Linked DNA regions of Homo sapiens: region 1 is linked to region 2. The links come from fine-mapping of genetic effects on gene expression. A gene starts in region 2. The other region holds a variant in brackets. All regions are shown on one strand. Distances are between the middles of the regions.

Evidence for each region. PIP is the estimated chance that this variant, and not a neighbour inherited with it, causes the effect.
Region 1: its variant is the best candidate, but not a certain one, in a credible set for the expression of TARBP2 in esophagus mucosa (GTEx, PIP 0.90).

What each region holds. Positions count from the first base shown.
Region 1 is chr12:53,459,863-53,467,862 of GRCh38, forward strand. It overlaps PCBP2 (poly(rC) binding protein 2), which reads left to right. Exons shown (of 15, transcript NM_031989.5): 7 at 1,153-1,281; 8 at 2,631-2,705; 9 at 4,898-4,990; 10 at 6,070-6,111; 11 at 7,359-7,431; 12 at 7,943-7,981. It overlaps PCBP2-OT1 (PCBP2 overlapping transcript 1), which reads left to right and starts at 4,606. Exons shown (of 1, transcript NR_109828.1): 1 at 4,606-5,195. The variant C/T (reference allele first, on the strand shown) is at 3,681.
Region 2 is chr12:53,497,404-53,506,013 of GRCh38, forward strand. It overlaps TARBP2 (TARBP2 subunit of RISC loading complex), which reads left to right and starts at 3,880. Exons shown (of 9, transcript NM_134323.2): 1 at 3,880-4,058; 2 at 4,612-4,781; 3 at 5,624-5,726; 4 at 6,310-6,405; 5 at 6,994-7,066; 6 at 7,295-7,412; 7 at 7,732-7,859; 8 at 8,246-8,447; 9 at 8,588-8,610. The coding sequence starts at 4,006. MAP3K12 (mitogen-activated protein kinase kinase kinase 12) reads right to left here and starts at 2,055. Exons shown (of 14, transcript NM_001193511.2): 1 at 2,024-2,055. RefSeq lists a silencer at 2,172-2,421 and an enhancer at 3,515-3,814.

The sequences.
Region 1 (8,000 bases), 38 kb before region 2:
CGATCCTCTCATCTCAGCCTCCCAAGGAGCCGGGACTGCAGGCTCCCACCACCACACCCAAATTTTTGTATTTTTTTGTAAAAATGGTGTTTTGCCATGTGGCCCAGGCTGGTTTCGAACTCCTGAGCTCAAGCAATCCACCCACCTCAGGCTCCCAGTGTTATTACTACAGGCTTGAGCCAGCACACTTGCTTGCCTGCAGCGTCATTTTTCTTGACCAGACTTATAAACAACAAGGAGAAAAATAGGAAGATGTATTGGGAAATAGATGTAATTCTACATCTTTTTTTTTTTTTTTGAGACAGGGTCTCACTCAGGCTGAAGTGCAGGGCATAATCGTGATCATGGCTTACTGCAACCTCGACTTCTGGGCTCATGTAACCCTCCTACCTCAAGCCTCCTGAGTACCTGGTACCATAGGCGCGCTCCACAATGCCCGGCTAATTTTTCTTCTTTCTGTTGTTGTAGAGACGAGTCTCACTGTTTTGCTCAGGCTGGTCTCCAACTCCTGAGCTTCCGATGATTCGACTGCCTTGGTCTCCCAAAGTGCTCGGATTACAGATGTGAGCCACTGTGCCTGGCCCCTACTTCCTGTTTAACTATGGAAGTTACGTTGAATTATGGAAGATTTTAATTGTATCTAGATGTTACTGAATTTGGTGTTGGAATGAAACTCGAATGGCTGCTTGAGTTTTTGGGAGCGTATCGTACATGGCACGACAGAGATCTTAATTTTGTTAATTGCTATATTCGAAGCACTTCTCATGGTACCTGGCACATAGAATGGCCTTGATGTAAATATTTTTTCAGTAACATAATGAAAGGTGGGTGATACTTGTGGGGCTTTTGCTTCGCCCAGAGAACTATCATTAGTTGAAAGGCAACTATTTAGAAGGACCTTTTGCTTGAGAGTAGGTTAAATTTAGGCTGTTATTCACGCTTATTCTTGTCTTTCAGTGGCTAATTTATTTTTAACTCTAATTCACTAAACAGTCCTATCTGGAATAAGGGAAGAGTGGGACAAAGAACAAAAAGGGAAGATTGGAAATGGATAAATATCTACTAGAGTTTTAGGCTCTGAAATTGCTGCTGGAGGAATTGGAAGAGCATGAACTGTTTTTCTCTGATTTTGAATTTCTTTTTACTCCAAAGAGTACAGGGGCTCAGGTCCAGGTGGCAGGGGATATGCTACCCAACTCAACTGAGCGGGCCATCACTATTGCTGGCATTCCACAATCCATCATTGAGTGTGTCAAACAGATCTGCGTGGTCATGTTGGAGGTAAGCCCTCAGGCTCATGCTGAAAATGGGGGGAGGGCCATTCTGGGGACAGAGGGACTGATCTATATTTAGTAAGACTAGAATTAAGTGAGGCTGTTAAGGCTTCCAGTGGGGGTGGGGCTAAAAGGTTCCCTGAGTTCATATTTTCCTTCCCCTAGCTTTGACTTTTCTTATGGTCTGTGAGCAAAAATAGAAACTGCTAAGCAGCAGTGATCTTTTGGTTCACAGCAGTTGTAGCAGAGTCGGGGAGAAGATGCACTGCATGGACTAAGGAGGCCAGAGATTTATTTGAGTTCCTGAGTAGCTGAGTTAAATTACTTTTTGAATTACTGTATTTTGGTTACATGGAAATTTGACATGTTCTTTAACAACTTGTCACTTTGTAGGAGGGTATTCAAAGTGTTACATAGAGTAGAAAAATGTATGTATGATGATGTTTCCGAATGACTTACAAGGTCCTGATTATACACTATTATTCTATTAAAAGAATAGCAAAATTCAGGAAAATTAAGCCTTTTCAGATTTGTGATATGGAGTTGGTTTCATTGGTGAGAAATGAAACGAATTTTTTCGTGTGTGTGTGTGTGTGACGGGTTCACTTTGTCACCCAGACTGGAGTGCAGTGGTGCAGTATCGGCTCACTGCAACCTCTGCCTATCAGGCTTAAGCGATCCTCTCACCTGTCTCCCCAGTAGCTTGGTCTACAGGCATGCGCCACCACACCTGGCTAATTTTTTTTATTTTTTGTAGAGACGGGATTTTGCCATGTTGCCCAGGCTGGTCTTGAACTCCTGAGCTCAAGCCATCCACCCGCCTCAGCCTTCCAAAGTACTGGTATTACCAGCATGAGCCGATGCACCCAACCTGGAAACTGGAATTTTCAAGTAGAGATTAGAAAAACCTTGATTGAGCCTTTGAACTATTTATAGATAGTGTCTGTATTATTCTAGACATAACACTTGAGTACTTTATTTGCAGTTTTGACCTTATTTCCTATTCAGGCCAAAAAAATGTGAGATACTAAAAATTATCAACAAAAATATACGTTTAACAGTTTTTCATGTCCATTAAATTTATCTAAAATTTTGGAAATAGTGCCGAAGATTATTACATGGACATCTCCCTTGATGAGAATCAGTTTGAATTGTGTAGTCCTTGGACTTACTGCATTAAAGGCAAATAACTTTCAGTAGATAAATTGAGATTAGATCTAGCCAGAGACAATTTGGTAGGTAAGGGGATGGAAATAGTTTTTAATTTAACTGACCTGTGTGAGCTAAAGCCACACAGCTGAAGCAGCTTTGAAACCTTATCTCTTTTTGTTTTTTTCCCCTCTGACTCTCTCCCAGTCCCCCCCGAAGGGCGTGACCATCCCGTACCGGCCCAAGCCGTCCAGCTCTCCGGTCATCTTTGCAGGTGGTCAGGTAAGAAAATTCTCATTTGTGGGCTAGAATGAACAGAGATTATATTTGAAATGTCAACTTTGCCAGCATCACACCAAGCCACTCTGCATGCTTGCTGAAACCTATACTCTGGCCATAGTTTGACCGGCTTTTAGTTTTATTTTTGTACTGGAGAAAGCTGAATGCCTTAATTTTTAGCAGGCAATGGAAGTTTTGTAGGCACTCGGAAGAGGTAACTTACTTGTGGGTTGGGTTAGAATATAAGAGTTGAATTGACTTACTGTCTCTACTTCTCTCCCTGTCCCCACCCCATCCATGTTTTATGTGTGTGGGGTGATATTTAGAGGTCTAAATAAAAGGTAGCAAAGAGTTGGACCTCTGAAGGAGATTCTGGATGGTGGTCTCAAAATTTGGGGGTCCTGAATTTGAGTGTCCTACAAACTTCCCCTTCCCTCCACCTCACCTCCCCTACTCCTACCCCTTCACTCCCAAACTCCAGTGTGTTGTCCCCTAGGCTCTTAACCTCATAAACACTGGTTTGAACCCACATGGCATAACTGAAATCAGCTGGGGTAAGAGTTCAGTGTGCAAGAATAGAAGGGGGGTGAGCATGTTGGGCTGTGGTGCCGTGACCTTTGGTGTTAGAGTAAGAACACCAAAGCACCACCGTGGCCTCTCTGCTCCTTCCTCATCAACCTAAACTCTTGATCTTTGGCACGTGGACTATTCTGAAGTTAGATTATTATGACAGAAGCATTGAAGGACCATGGTAGTCCTATGCTCTGATTGTATTTGAGGAGTAGGTAGATCAGGTTTTAAAATACAGTTGGCCCTTTGTGGGTTCCACCTTCAACCTACCTCAGATCAAAAGTATTCAGGGAAAAAAATGGGTGGTTGTATCTGTACTGAACATGTACAGGCTTTGTTTTGTCATTAAACAATAGAGTATAACAAGTATTTACATAGTATTTACATTGTATTAGGTATTATAAGTAA[C/T]CTAGAGATGATTAAAATATGTGGGAGGATATGCTTAGGTTATATGCAAGTACTATACCATTTTATGTAAAAGACTTGAATATCCATGGATATTTGTTTCTATGGGGGGAATCCTAGGACTAATCTCCCACCAATAACGTAGGGACACCTAGGGACAACTGCATTGGGATTCAGGTTGAAATAGTGACTGATTTTGGTAGCTGCCTAAGCAAGTGCGTTGCTCAAAACACCTTTTCCCACTTGGGGCTGGTCTGTTACAAGCATATTTAGTTAACTAGTTCCATCTTACCTGCGTTTGATCTGGGAGCCATTTAGAGGGCAAGCATAAACTTGGGAGTCCATCTCTTTCACATTGTGTTGAATTGGCATAAAAATGAACAAGTTTTTAGAGGTTTAGTTTGTCGTGTAGTTATGAGAGGTTTCACAGGAAGGTCGGTTATGTCACAGTGTTAACCTTGAGTCAGTTTAGTACCTTGCTTTTAGAAAAGTACAAACTGGTTTGTTCAAAGGGCTCTCAGTCTAGTTAGTCAGAGTTGGGCAGGATAAGCAAAGGCCCAGAGTCAGTGTCGCCAGAAGGATTTAGCCTTAGGAGTTTTTCTTTCCCAGGAACTCCAGGTTCCTGCTCTTCTGGATTCTCCCACTCCCCCTTTGGAATAGAGTCCCATACTGGGTGGCAGCAATCCTCTGTACTTAAAATTCTTCCTTCACTTCCTTTTTTTTCCACTCCCCATCACACCTCCCCCTTCATACCTCTTTGCTTCCCTACCCACCCTCCCTCCCTCCCTCCCCTTTATTTAGTTGATGACCACCGTCTAAAAATTTGCAGCTTCTTCTATGAGTGGCCCTGTCATGGATTGTTCCCACAGGCCTTTTTAAATATACAATGTCCACAGATGGACCTGTGTCTTTTGTTCCTTTGTGGCAAAGTGGGCTCTGTAGGGGTTCAACTTAATCCCACACTGACCAGGAGCTGGCATCAGCTCTGTTGCCCCACCCCTTCATTCTTATTGAAAATAGCCCAATTGTGCAGTGTGAAATCTGCCACTAGGTAACTTTTTTTTTTAATTCACTGATTACAGCTCGTTTCAAATTGTGTCTGAGCTCCTTTTTAAAGGAAAAAGGAAAAAAATAAACAACTTTTTTTGTGTGAATTTCATGCTGGTGACAAGGTGCCGGATTGACAGCCCTGGAGACTGAAATCCTCTATTTATCCACAGGACAGGTACAGCACAGGCAGCGACAGTGCGAGCTTTCCCCACACCACCCCGTCCATGTGCCTCAACCCTGACCTGGAGGGACCACCTCTAGAGGTGAGAGGGGATGTTCAGTCTCCAAGGCTCACTCAATCCTTCCGCCTCAGCCGAGACTGCCAACACACGGGGGGCCAGTGGCGCTGGTGATTTTTGGTGCTGTGGACACCACCTGTCCACGGGGACCTGGACTGACCCCCCCAACCTCATTTCACCCAGGCCGCGTAGCCCACCAGATGGTAACACCAACTTTTTTTTTTTTTTTAATTTTTTTTTTGTTCAACCCCTCTTCCCCTCTCCCACTCCTCCCACCCCATTTTCACCTTCCTTCCACCCCCACCTGGGTGTACTTTTGGGGGTACTGGCCACTGTGATGTGAGAAACTTCACATCCTGTTAACCAGCCACTCCTTCCATCCCCTCCCTCCCTGTTCCCTTTTCCTTTCCTCCTTTTCCCTACCCCATTGCCCTGAAGACCCAGCTCCCTTTTTGGGAGGTTATGTTGTGGGGGGGAGGAGGGCATAGTGGGAGCTGCAAATGCCTATGGAGGGGAGGTGGGAGAAGACAGGAATTAGAACCCAGTGGTTTTTGTTTACCTGTGATCAGCTCCCTACTGTTAGGGACTCAGCTAGCATCCAGTGTTCTTAAGGTCTTTAGGCAGATAGAGAAATAAGTTGGAGAAAGGGAAGTGTTTTAAAACATACCATGTAGGTTTGTGCAGTTAGAGATCTTCCACATCACCACAATTGGTAGAAGGGTTGGGGTGGTGAGGGAAGAGATCATTATTCCTCCTAGGCTATCTTGTATACAGGGAGGAAGAGTGGGGCTTGGTCAGTCGAGGCATTGCTAATCTCACTTCCCACATTTTCATTAAGAAACAGTTATGTATATTTTGCCTTTGATTGCAGGGAACTTGGCTACCTTTATAGGATTCCCCGGAACAAAGTCATATTTAGGGTTCAAAGAAGGCCAATTTGGGTCTGACCATATTTGTGAGATTCCATCTACTGCCTCAATCTCTGGCCTCCCCCATTCTCTAGTTCAACTCTGGCTTCCTGGCTAGTTGAAATGTCTTTTTCCCCCCACTGGGTGGCTGTCCGTGATTGGTTTTTAATAGGAACTGTTTTCCTCCTTTTGTAGGCCTATACCATTCAAGGACAGTATGCCATTCCACAGCCAGATGTAAGTTTTGTTTTCACTTCTTGTTTTGAAAAGCTCCCTCTCCCATCCAAAATTGTCTCACTCCTCTCTCCCAAGTAGCCAGAAGTGAGTTGGGTCTTCAGCATTTGCAGTATTAAGTTGTTTTCTTCACAAGGTCAATCCCATATTTTAGCCCTTTAATCAGGGTAATGCCTTGTTTGCCTTTTAACATTTAACCCCTGAAATTTAATTCAGCACATTAGCTTCTCCTTTCCCCCTGTGTTTCAGATTACCCTGTTTCTAAAAGGGAAATGTTCCATGGTATACTGTGATTTGTTATCTCAGGGCATAGTTTAAATTGACATTGGGACTGTGCTTCCTTGCATGCAGTTCTCTTTTCCATGAGGGTAATGGGAGGTTGGGTTTGCCCTTGGGAACTCCTCAATCTGAGATGACAATTTGAAAAGTATTTGGAGGGATGGGGAAGGGGCTTATGTTACACAGAGAGGGATAGGAACCTGAACATTTCAGAATTCAACTCAAACCTTTCTTGCTGCTAAAACCTCCTATTTAAAAGTGCCGGTATTTAGACTTCAAGGGCATTTTTTTCTGCACTTTTCTTTTATCCTTACTAACCTTTTCAGGTGCTGAGCATTATTAGACTTGGGAAGTTGAGTTTCGGTCTTGGTTAGTGGTAGGCCCCAGGAGAGAGGGAAGTAGACGTGAAGAAGGATTATTTTATGACAGTCAGGACAGTTTATATAGATGAATAAAAATAGCTGTAGTAGTCAGTGGTGGCGGTGATGGGACTAAACCCAGTATGGTTTCTTCACCTCTCTCCTCCTTGCAGTCTCCCTGCCCCCCTCATCTCCTTCCCTCTCCCCAATACTGATGAAACCCTGCATGGTGTGTTTTCCCTAGCACCACTGCACAGTTTGTTTACCTAGCCTGTCTGTGCTTGTCCCTGCGGCAACTGTTGCAATGGCTGCAAACTACCTTCATTAAGTAGCCTCCAAGGGGGATGGTCGTTGGGCAAGTGCTGTTGCTTTTCTATTCCCACACCCAAAAGGCATTCATTCTCTTCCAGGCACCCATTCTATTTCTAACCCTTACCCTTCATATTCTGCCAATCCCCAGGATTGTGATGCAAGCCCCATCCCTACCCTCTGTTGTAGTTTGAGTAGTAGAGTCAATTTTGGGAATCAGGACCTGCATTTTCAAATTCGAATGTGCTTGAGCCCTGGCTCTGTTAAATCTTCTAATGCCAACCTCCTGTTTCCTCCTTGCAGTTGACCAAGCTGCACCAGTTGGCAATGCAACAGTCTCATTTTCCCATGACGCATGGCAACACCGGATTCAGTGGTATGGATACCTCAGTGTTTATTTCTGTAAGGTGTAGTGCAAGAGAGAGGCCAGTCCCAAGGTCTCAGCTTGACATCTGTTTAAAACAAACTTCGTTATCCAGCATCCTGCTGGTTTAAACTTGCCTGTCTACTATGGCTAAGCCCAAGGAGGTAATGTGTTTGTTAACGTGGTTTTCATTTGGGGTCAGTTATTCTAAAAGAAAAAAAAAGCCCTGGAAGGTTTGGGGGTGAGGTTTGGGGATGCTTGTCAGGCAAAGGGTAGGCTGATATTTCTTTGAGCCCATCCTGACTGCTGCCCCCTTGATCTGATCAGCACCCCCTTTCTCTCCACCAGCAATTCACAGGCTTGGGTAGAGACCATCCATTTGTGCCAAATTGTGTAGTGTTTTTTTTGTTTTTGTTTTTGTTTTTATTTTGTTTCGTTTTTGGGGCTTTTCTGTATAAGGAATAACTTGTCCGATAGGGTTAGGATGAGACCACCAAACTCATTTTCACTTGTATCTTAACAGGCATTGAATCCAGCTCTCCAGAGGTGAAAGGCTATTGGGGTAATGATTAAAAAAAAAA
Region 2 (8,610 bases):
AAGAATGAAGAAACCAAAGGGCAAGGGCTCTATCCTGAATGATCTTTAGCCTCCTCTGGAATCTGGTCACTGTCACAGTCTCCTCACCTTCTCCACGCACACATATGACCCCAGTCCTTCTGGGAGCCAATGAACCAGACAGACCAGTCTCTGTGGCCAGGCCCTCATGAAGCCCCTATGTCCCCTGCTGGCATCATCTCAACAGTATCCTCCTTCTTCCCAGCATCACCTCAGTCAACAGTGTGAGTGAATGCATGAGTGGCTGGCGTGAGGGGCAGACATTTCCACCTCACTGGAAGAAGCATGGCAGCTGGGGGTCCCAGGGCTTGACTGGTGTAGGGCTGAGGACCTGAATGTAGGGGTGATCTCCAGTCCACCCTAGCAAGGACTTCTTACAGGGTTGATTCCTTCTTTCTCTCCAGATCCAGGCAGGGGAGAGGGAGGACTGTGCATTACGAGAGTCCGGGCTGTGAGTGGTAGAACCAAGAGTCCTCTTCCTAGAAAAGCCTGATCCTACCACAGTGTCACCACGAGGGGAAAAGCAATTGGTTTTTAGAAGGGTTCTGCCCTCTTCAGCTATAAGGAAGCCTAGGAAATCCTGAGCCATGTCTAACTTCTTGCCTCCTCTGTCCATAACTGGGATGGATATTTAGCTGGTGTCTCCATGTTGAGAGCTGGGGTTTTCCTAACATTACCCCAGTTGACAATGGGAGTGAGTGGATGAATGATACGCTTGAGGGGACACACTTTTTTTCACCTGTAAGTGTGAGATAGGAGGGAGTGGGGCCCTAAAGCTCAGAGAAACTTCAGTGTCTGGACAGGAAGGCTCAGGGGGCACTTGAGTCCTATCCTTCCTAAATCCTTTCTGTTAGCCTTAGCTTGGTAGGACCCTCTGGCTGAAACTCAGAGCTCCTAGAGCAATGGAGTCCACCTTGAGAACTGCAAGGGAAATGTGTTTAGAGGGATGCACTGACTGTGGCTTGAGACGACTCTGGGTGGGGTGAGGAGACCTCATGTGCACTCCCTTCTGATTGGAGGCCACTCACCTACGCTCCTCTGAAAAAGGCAGCAGATGAGCATCTACAAGGTAGGACTCCTCCCTTAATTCTAAGGGACACCTCACTGTTTCCTCCCACTGTCTACAGAGCCTTGACTCTTCCCTCCTCTCAGTCAAGGCCTTGGTTACCAGCAAGTCTCAACTCTTGTTTATTTTTAAGCCAATGAGTTTGAGGAGTGTTTGTGGGAAAGGGAGGAGGTTTTTGGAGGGCCTGACTGGGGGAGATGGGTTAGGGGAGCCAGAGGAGATGGAGAGAAAGAGGAGGGAGAAACCCACACGTGAATGGGGGAGGGGAGGATGCAACAGCTGGATGGAGGTGAATGCCACAGCTGGAGGTGAATGCCACAGCTGGAGGGGATTAGGAGGATCACAGCTTGAAGGGGAGGGGGACCAACGCCTGGGCATGCAGGAACAGGTGCTCTCTGACTAATCTTCAGGTCCAGCCTGCTGTGTGTGTGTGTGTGTGTGTGTGTGTGTGTGTGTGTGTGTGTGTGTGTGTGTGTGTGTGTGTGTGTGTGTGTGTGTGTGTGTGTGTGTGTGTGTGGAGATGGTGGGTATATCAGTCCTTGCCCTTCCTTTCCTTCCCTAGAGGGGGCCAAAACTCTCCCTCCTCCTTCCCTCTCTCTCTTCCTGAGGATGAGTGGGAGGAGATGTTCTCTTGCCCTCTGTCCTTTAAGTCTGTCCCCCAATCATCCTCCACCCCACCCCAATACGGTCCTTTCCAGCTCTGGAGGCCCTTCGTCTCCAAGCTGGGCCGCGGCATCCCTCCGCTCCATTCCCTTCCTTCCCAGCCCCACAGGCGTCGGGTCCAGGTCCCCAGTTCCTCCATCCCCACAGCCTCAGCATCCCCACGCCATCACCCCGCACCAGGCCACATCTGCATCCCGACCCTCCCTCCACGCCCGGATCCCAGGACCCAGACCCATCCCTGCCCCCCACCCCCCCACAACTCGGCCAGGCTCTCACCTCGGGGGCTCCGCGGCCGCAGCACAAAAGGCGGCGCTGCTGCAGCTCCGCTCCGGATGCTGCTCCCGCCTCCTCCTCCTTCTCCTCCTCCTTCCCTCCTCCCCCCGCTGCCCTCCACCGGACCCGGGGCGCTGTCACAGGCGATGCTCGTGCGGTGTCCGGATGCACGGGTGTCAGCTTCAGCTTTCTGCCCCCACCCCCCGACCCCTAGCCCCGTCCCTGCTCGGCTTGAACTCCCGCTCCTTCCAGGGCCCCCGCCCCTGGCCCCCCGGGACGGACACGCCCTGAGCGGGGGATGCTGCGATGGAGCCGCCGGCCTCTTAAAGGAGCCCGCTGCTGCCATCCGGCGCGCTCCAGGCTCGTACCTGGCCCGCCTGGGCCCCGCGCCTCCCTGCTGGCGGTGTCCTATGGAGGTCCCACCTCAGGCCTCAGGCTGATTCCACAGGAACCCCCTATGACCCGTCTTATAGACTCCTTTCTACATCGGAGAGAGCAGCCCCTCAGTTGGGATCCCTAGCGCTCTGGCATTGCTCCCCCTATCATACCGATCTTGCCAGCTCTCCTTCCCTTGATTGTCACCACTCACTCCAATTTCACCCACTTGGAATTCACTCGGCTCTAGGCCCCATCCTCCTCCAGTGTTCCTGGATGACCCCTCATTATCATTTCAAGATTCCTCTGGACCTCCAACCCCGGCTCAGAGTAAGACATCTTTCTTGACCCCTTCTCAGAACACTCATTAGAACCTTTTTTTTTTTTAATGTGGTCTCTCCCTTTCTCTCTCCAAGGTCACAAGATTTCCCTCAGCCCAGTGGTTGTGCAACTTTGGGGGAGGAGGCAATGGGGCTCTAGGACTAAACAATGCGCGTCTGCTCAACACCCAGATCAGTTGATTAATCTTAGGCGGCCAAAATTCACTTTTGCTCTCTTCAGCTGAGAGACCCAAGACTCATGGAAGAGGGAACAAGACCACCAAGGTGCCTAGTCCTTCTAATCCTGTCGTCCCACATTACAGCCTGATTATCAGGCCCCAGAGGTTTCCTCGCCAGTTAAAGAGAGGTTCACTAGAGCGGTTCTAAAAAGGTTTCACAAAAGAAGCAACACCTGAAGGGAGGTGAAGGACGACCTAGGAAAAGGAAGCAAGTTCTGTGTCACGGAGGCCCAAGGGCAAGGGGCTTAGGCTGTGGGTTGAGGGGACTGTCTGAGACGGACTTAAACCTGCACCAGCTCCAGAGCCCTGCGGAAACAGAGATCGGTCCCCTCCGGCGTCTAGGTAAGGCCCACCCTCCCAGACCGCAAAGAGCCAGGATCCGACGGCAGCCTCTCCGGACCAATCACAACCTTCCTTCATCAAGGAGGCGGGGTCGGGGGGGGCTGACTTTTCCTTGTCTCCGCCCCTTTAGTCGAAGTAACCAATCTCAGTGCACCTAGGGGAAGTAATCGCAATGGGAGTAACCAATGACGCCATGAAGCTTCTCGTGCGTGCTTGACCCTGCCTCTCCAGCTGCGACACAGATGGCGCGCGGGCTCTTGGGTTCTGTAGTTTTCTCGCGATCCAAAAGGCTCCGTGCCCAAGTGAGTCCTTACCGCCTCCCTACCCAGCGGCTTCCCCTCCGCTAGTACGCATGTCCACAGCTTCACGGACCGGGAGAGAGGGGGCGCGGAAGGAAGGAGGCGGGACGGTATTACAAACAAAAAAATACGGCCTTCTCGAGAAGCGACGGCGGAGGGCCCGCTCCTCCCAGAAGGCGGTGCAGCCTGCCCGGGCGAGCCACGCACGCAGAGGGTTGTGGGGCGGATAGCTCCCCTCCAGATGGAGGCTCACGAAGTAGGGTGGGCGGGGGACTCCATATCCCAGCGTGCCCCGCGGCGGGCCCTACCGGCCGCGACTCCGGGCTTGGCCCCGGCCCTAGCTCGTCGGCTGTGTATTGGGGCGCGTGGAGGCTGCAGTCACGGTGGCGCCCGCGGGGACGGAGGAGGGAATGAGTGAAGAGGAGCAAGGCTCCGGCACTACCACGGGCTGCGGGCTGCCTAGGTGAGCCGTCTCGTACCGATTCCTTCAGGGCGAAAAGCGTGGGGCCGTGCGGAGGGAGTAGCGGCGCGGCCCCAGCATGCACCTGGCCTGAGGGTTGTTCCCGGCAAGCACTGGGGCAGTGGGCAGTGGTTCCCGGCGTGCACCGGGGCAGTGGCTGCTGCCTCCAGCTCTAAATAGTTTGGGGTTGGCCCGGTTCCCAGACTGCACTGGAACACTGGGCTTTATGCCCCCACATTCAGTGCATTTGGTGGGTACTGGGTTCCTGGCTTGCACTGTGTCAGGGGGTATGCACTTTCAACCTGCATTGGGGCACAGGATCGTGCCCACCTTAACTGAGGCAGGAGCAATGCATTCTTCCCCCCTTGCTTTGGGGTAGTGGGCCCTACTTTTCCAGCCTGCACCTCCACTTGGAACCCAGCCAATGGATGCTAGACTGTCTGGGGTTCCTTGGACCCTATGTCCCCCATAATGTGCCTAGGTCTGGTATGGAAGTGCTTGGCTAGGTGGGTGCAGAGAGGGGAGGTGTGATGTGGGTCTGTGCCCCTTCCCCCAGTATAGAGCAAATGCTGGCCGCCAACCCAGGCAAGACCCCGATCAGCCTTCTGCAGGAGTATGGGACCAGAATAGGGAAGACGCCTGTGTACGACCTTCTCAAAGCCGAGGGCCAAGCCCACCAGCCTAATTTCACCTTCCGGGTCACCGTTGGCGACACCAGCTGCACTGGTGAGGAAGGCTTGGGCAGCCTGGCTGGGGTGTGCATTTGCAGGTCCCCATGGCTTTGTTTCTTGGAGTCTCTCTCTTCACAGTCCTTTTCTCCAAGGCCAGTGAGGGAAGGAGAGATTTCAGGGGAAAAGCTACTGACTGGATTGGGAGAACAGGGCTGTAAGAAGGTGGGTAGGACGTGGGAGAGTTAGAGGAGCGAGCAGGACTCCCACAGTGATCTGGCAGATCCCCATCACCCTAGAGGAAAAGTAAGAGAAGATAACTGAAATCCCAGTGGAGTATTTGGGGGAGTGAGTGCCTGGCGTGCTGGGCTCTGTTCCCGGTGCTTAACCAAATTCCCGTTTAATTTTAAACCTCAGTCTAACCAATGATTGTAGGTGGTAGTATCCGCCCCCCCGACTCCTCCCCCCGCCCGCCCATGTTGAATATGAGGAAACTGAGTGTTTGAGATAGTAAATGGCTGGTGCATGGTCACATGCCTAGTATGTGGCAGAGTGGGGCTTTTACTCCAGAGCCTACCCTCTCTTATTCCAGCTCTCTGTATTTATTGAGGGAAAAGAAAGTGCTTTGCAAAGGAAATTAAAGCATTTGCGCTCAGAAGTCCACCCAAGGCGTTTGAGCTCAGAAGTCCTGCTTGGCATGGCTTAATTCTGGAAGCTAACGGAAAGATAAGGGCTCTTCCTTCCAGCAATTAGTGAAACACTTCCAGTCTTCAGCAGGGGGAGGTTGGTCAGAAGGGGCTTGATTGATTCCCTCTGGCTACGAGGAGAGAGGCTGTGGGATGCTGGTTTCTTTCCCGTCCTTTCAGTGACCTCCAGTATTGCCCATGCCCCCTCTCTCAGGTCAGGGCCCCAGCAAGAAGGCAGCCAAGCACAAGGCAGCTGAGGTGGCCCTCAAACACCTCAAAGGGGGGAGCATGCTGGAGCCGGCCCTGGAGGACAGCAGGTGAGGGAGGAACCGAGGCATCCCAGAAGCCCTTCAAGGAACCCAGGCCCTGCACCACCCACTCTGCCCCGAGGCCTGGCCAGGTGACACTTAGCCACCCTGACCTGGCCTCTTCCTGAGAGTCCCTCTGGACCTGAACAGGGTTTTCCAGGGCTTCTGCTGCTATGAAGAATTCTTGGGGTGGAGGGGTTGGTTAGCCCCATAGAGGGGTTGTGGCAGTAGGTTGGGGCCTGGGTTAGGGAGGGAGAGGGGTAGAGGCTTGAGGCTAAAGGGAGTTACTCCCCAACATACCTCCTTGTTCTAGCAAGATGTCCTTCCTTCACGCGCAGGTTGGAGTTTGTTGCTCCTCTGGTTCTTGGGTACAAAGATACCCTCTTCTCTGAGACTCTCTTTTCTCAGTCTTTTCGCCGGTGTTTGGCAGCAAAGGATCCGAGGAGGAAGCTGTTGGTTGAGCCTCCCTGATTCTTTGGCTCAATTTGGAAGTTCTCTTAGGGGATTGGGAGGTCAGGAGGACGTGGGTCCCCCACCCCTCTCTTCCCCCTATACATGGGTGTGAATCAAAGGCCCCCTTCCCCTCGGGAAGTTCTTTTTCTCCCCTAGACTCTTCACTGCCTGAGGACATTCCGGTTTTTACTGCTGCAGCAGCTGCTACCCCAGTTCCATCTGTAGTCCTAACCAGGTATCTGTGTCCCCTGACTGCCTGAGGTGGGTGGAGGAAGGGGTTCTGGTTTTTGGTCCCTCAGTCCTTGGACCCAAGCTGGTCAGGCATGAGGAAGTCTGAGAATAAACAGAATGGAATAGTTGGGAACCAGAACTTGAAGAAATCACAGCAGCTGGTAAGCTCTTGGGACAAGAGGTCATTTGTGATTTTCAGACAGCCTTATGAATGATGTCCGACCATGTTTAAGGGTCTTGCAGGCCCCATTTTCTTCTGGGTTGACCACATGTCAGTTCTGTGTTTGAGGCCCATCAGGCACTTCTGGGACTGGAAATACAGCTCTTCTCCCACTGTCCTGGCTTAGATGATACCCAAGTGTTCCAGAATGGAAATGGGCTGGGGCCTGGAGAAGGCCTCCCTTGAGTGGGAGGGGGAAGGAAGCCGGCTAGAGCAGGAGGAGCAGGCTAGATGTGTGGACAGACAGCTCCCCACCCGGTGGAATCGGGAGATGGTAGTCAGGAATCTAAAGTAGTGGTTAGGTTTGGAGCTCATGGGCAGGCTCAGATGGAACCCTTCACCTCAACTTTGGCCCTGTGCCTTTTCCTTCAGGAGCCCCCCCATGGAACTGCAGCCCCCTGTCTCCCCTCAGCAGTCTGAGTGCAACCCCGTTGGTGCTCTGCAGGTGTGTCCCATCCTCATTTCCCATGCATGCCTGTCTTCCCTTGAGCCAGGGGCCATGAGGGAAGGCTATGTGTGTTTGGGGGTGGGGGCGGTTCCTTGTACTGAGGCCCTTTCCACCCCCCTCTCTCCTTCCTCTCACCTAGAGTCTGAGGCTCCTGCGTGGGGACCAGCGTGGGTGTGAGAAGCCTTTTTTCACTCAGCCTCATGCACCCTGTGTCTCCCTTCCAAGGAGCTGGTGGTGCAGAAAGGCTGGCGGTTGCCGGAGTACACAGTGACCCAGGAGTCTGGGCCAGCCCACCGCAAAGAATTCACCATGACCTGTCGAGTGGAGCGTTTCATTGAGATTGGTAACTGGGCAAGAAGGGGTTCTCACAACTCCTCTCCCGCAGCACTCTGGCCCCAGCCACAAAGCAGCTCCTGGCCTCACTCTGCTACACCCCCTGCTCTCTTAGCTTCACAGTCCCTAGCTCAGCCCCTTCCTTTTAGCTTCTTGGCACCCTATTTGTCCCCTTCTCTCTGGCTGACCAGGTTCTCACGTGCATGGGCAGGTCTTGAGTTCCCCTTTCCAGTTGACATTCTGGGGGGACCCTCAATCCAAGTATGACCTGGGTGGAAGCACTGGGTCTGTGGGGAATCATAACCCAGCAGCCCTCTCTCCACATGCAGGGAGTGGCACTTCCAAAAAATTGGCAAAGCGGAATGCGGCGGCCAAAATGCTGCTTCGAGTGCACACGGTGCCTCTGGATGCCCGGGATGGCAATGAGGTGGAGCCTGATGATGACCACTTCTCCATTGTGAGTGGCTCATGTGGGCCGGGCACCGTGGCCCATCCTCCATGCCAGGGCAGGGCTCCAGGGACTTGGGTCTGTGACTCAGCAGTGAGCCTCTCTGGGCCCTAGGTCTGCTTCTGCCACAGTTTTCCTACCAGACCCAGGGTTCCTGGGGCCGACTCAGCCTTGACTGTAGGCCCGCTCTGTAGCTCTGTTACTGGGGTGAGGAGGGATCCCTGGCCATCTGGCCCAGGGCCTGGTAGTTAGAAGGGGCCACCCAGGGATTGACTGGGGGGAGGCAAGCTGGAGGAAGCATTCTTTGTGCTTTGTTCTCCTTTGACGTTGAATGTCTCAATGCCTGGGTCCCACAGTCTCTCGCTTCATCTTTCTCACTGTTCCCATCTTGACAGGGTGTGGGCTCCCGCCTGGATGGTCTTCGAAACCGGGGCCCAGGTTGCACCTGGGATTCTCTACGAAATTCAGTAGGAGAGAAGATCCTGTCCCTCCGCAGTTGCTCCCTGGGCTCCCTGGGTGCCCTGGGCCCTGCCTGCTGCCGTGTCCTCAGTGAGCTCTCTGAGGAGCAGGCCTTTCACGTCAGCTACCTGGATATTGGTATGGCTAGCTGGGGAGCGAGCCAGGGGATGGTGGGGGCTGGACCGGAGCAAGTAGAAGGGGGTGATGATAACGTGAACGCACCCCTCCCCAGGGCTACCTCCCCCAACATTGCCTCCCTCCTCTCTCTTGCTCTCCAGAGGAGCTGAGCCTGAGTGGACTC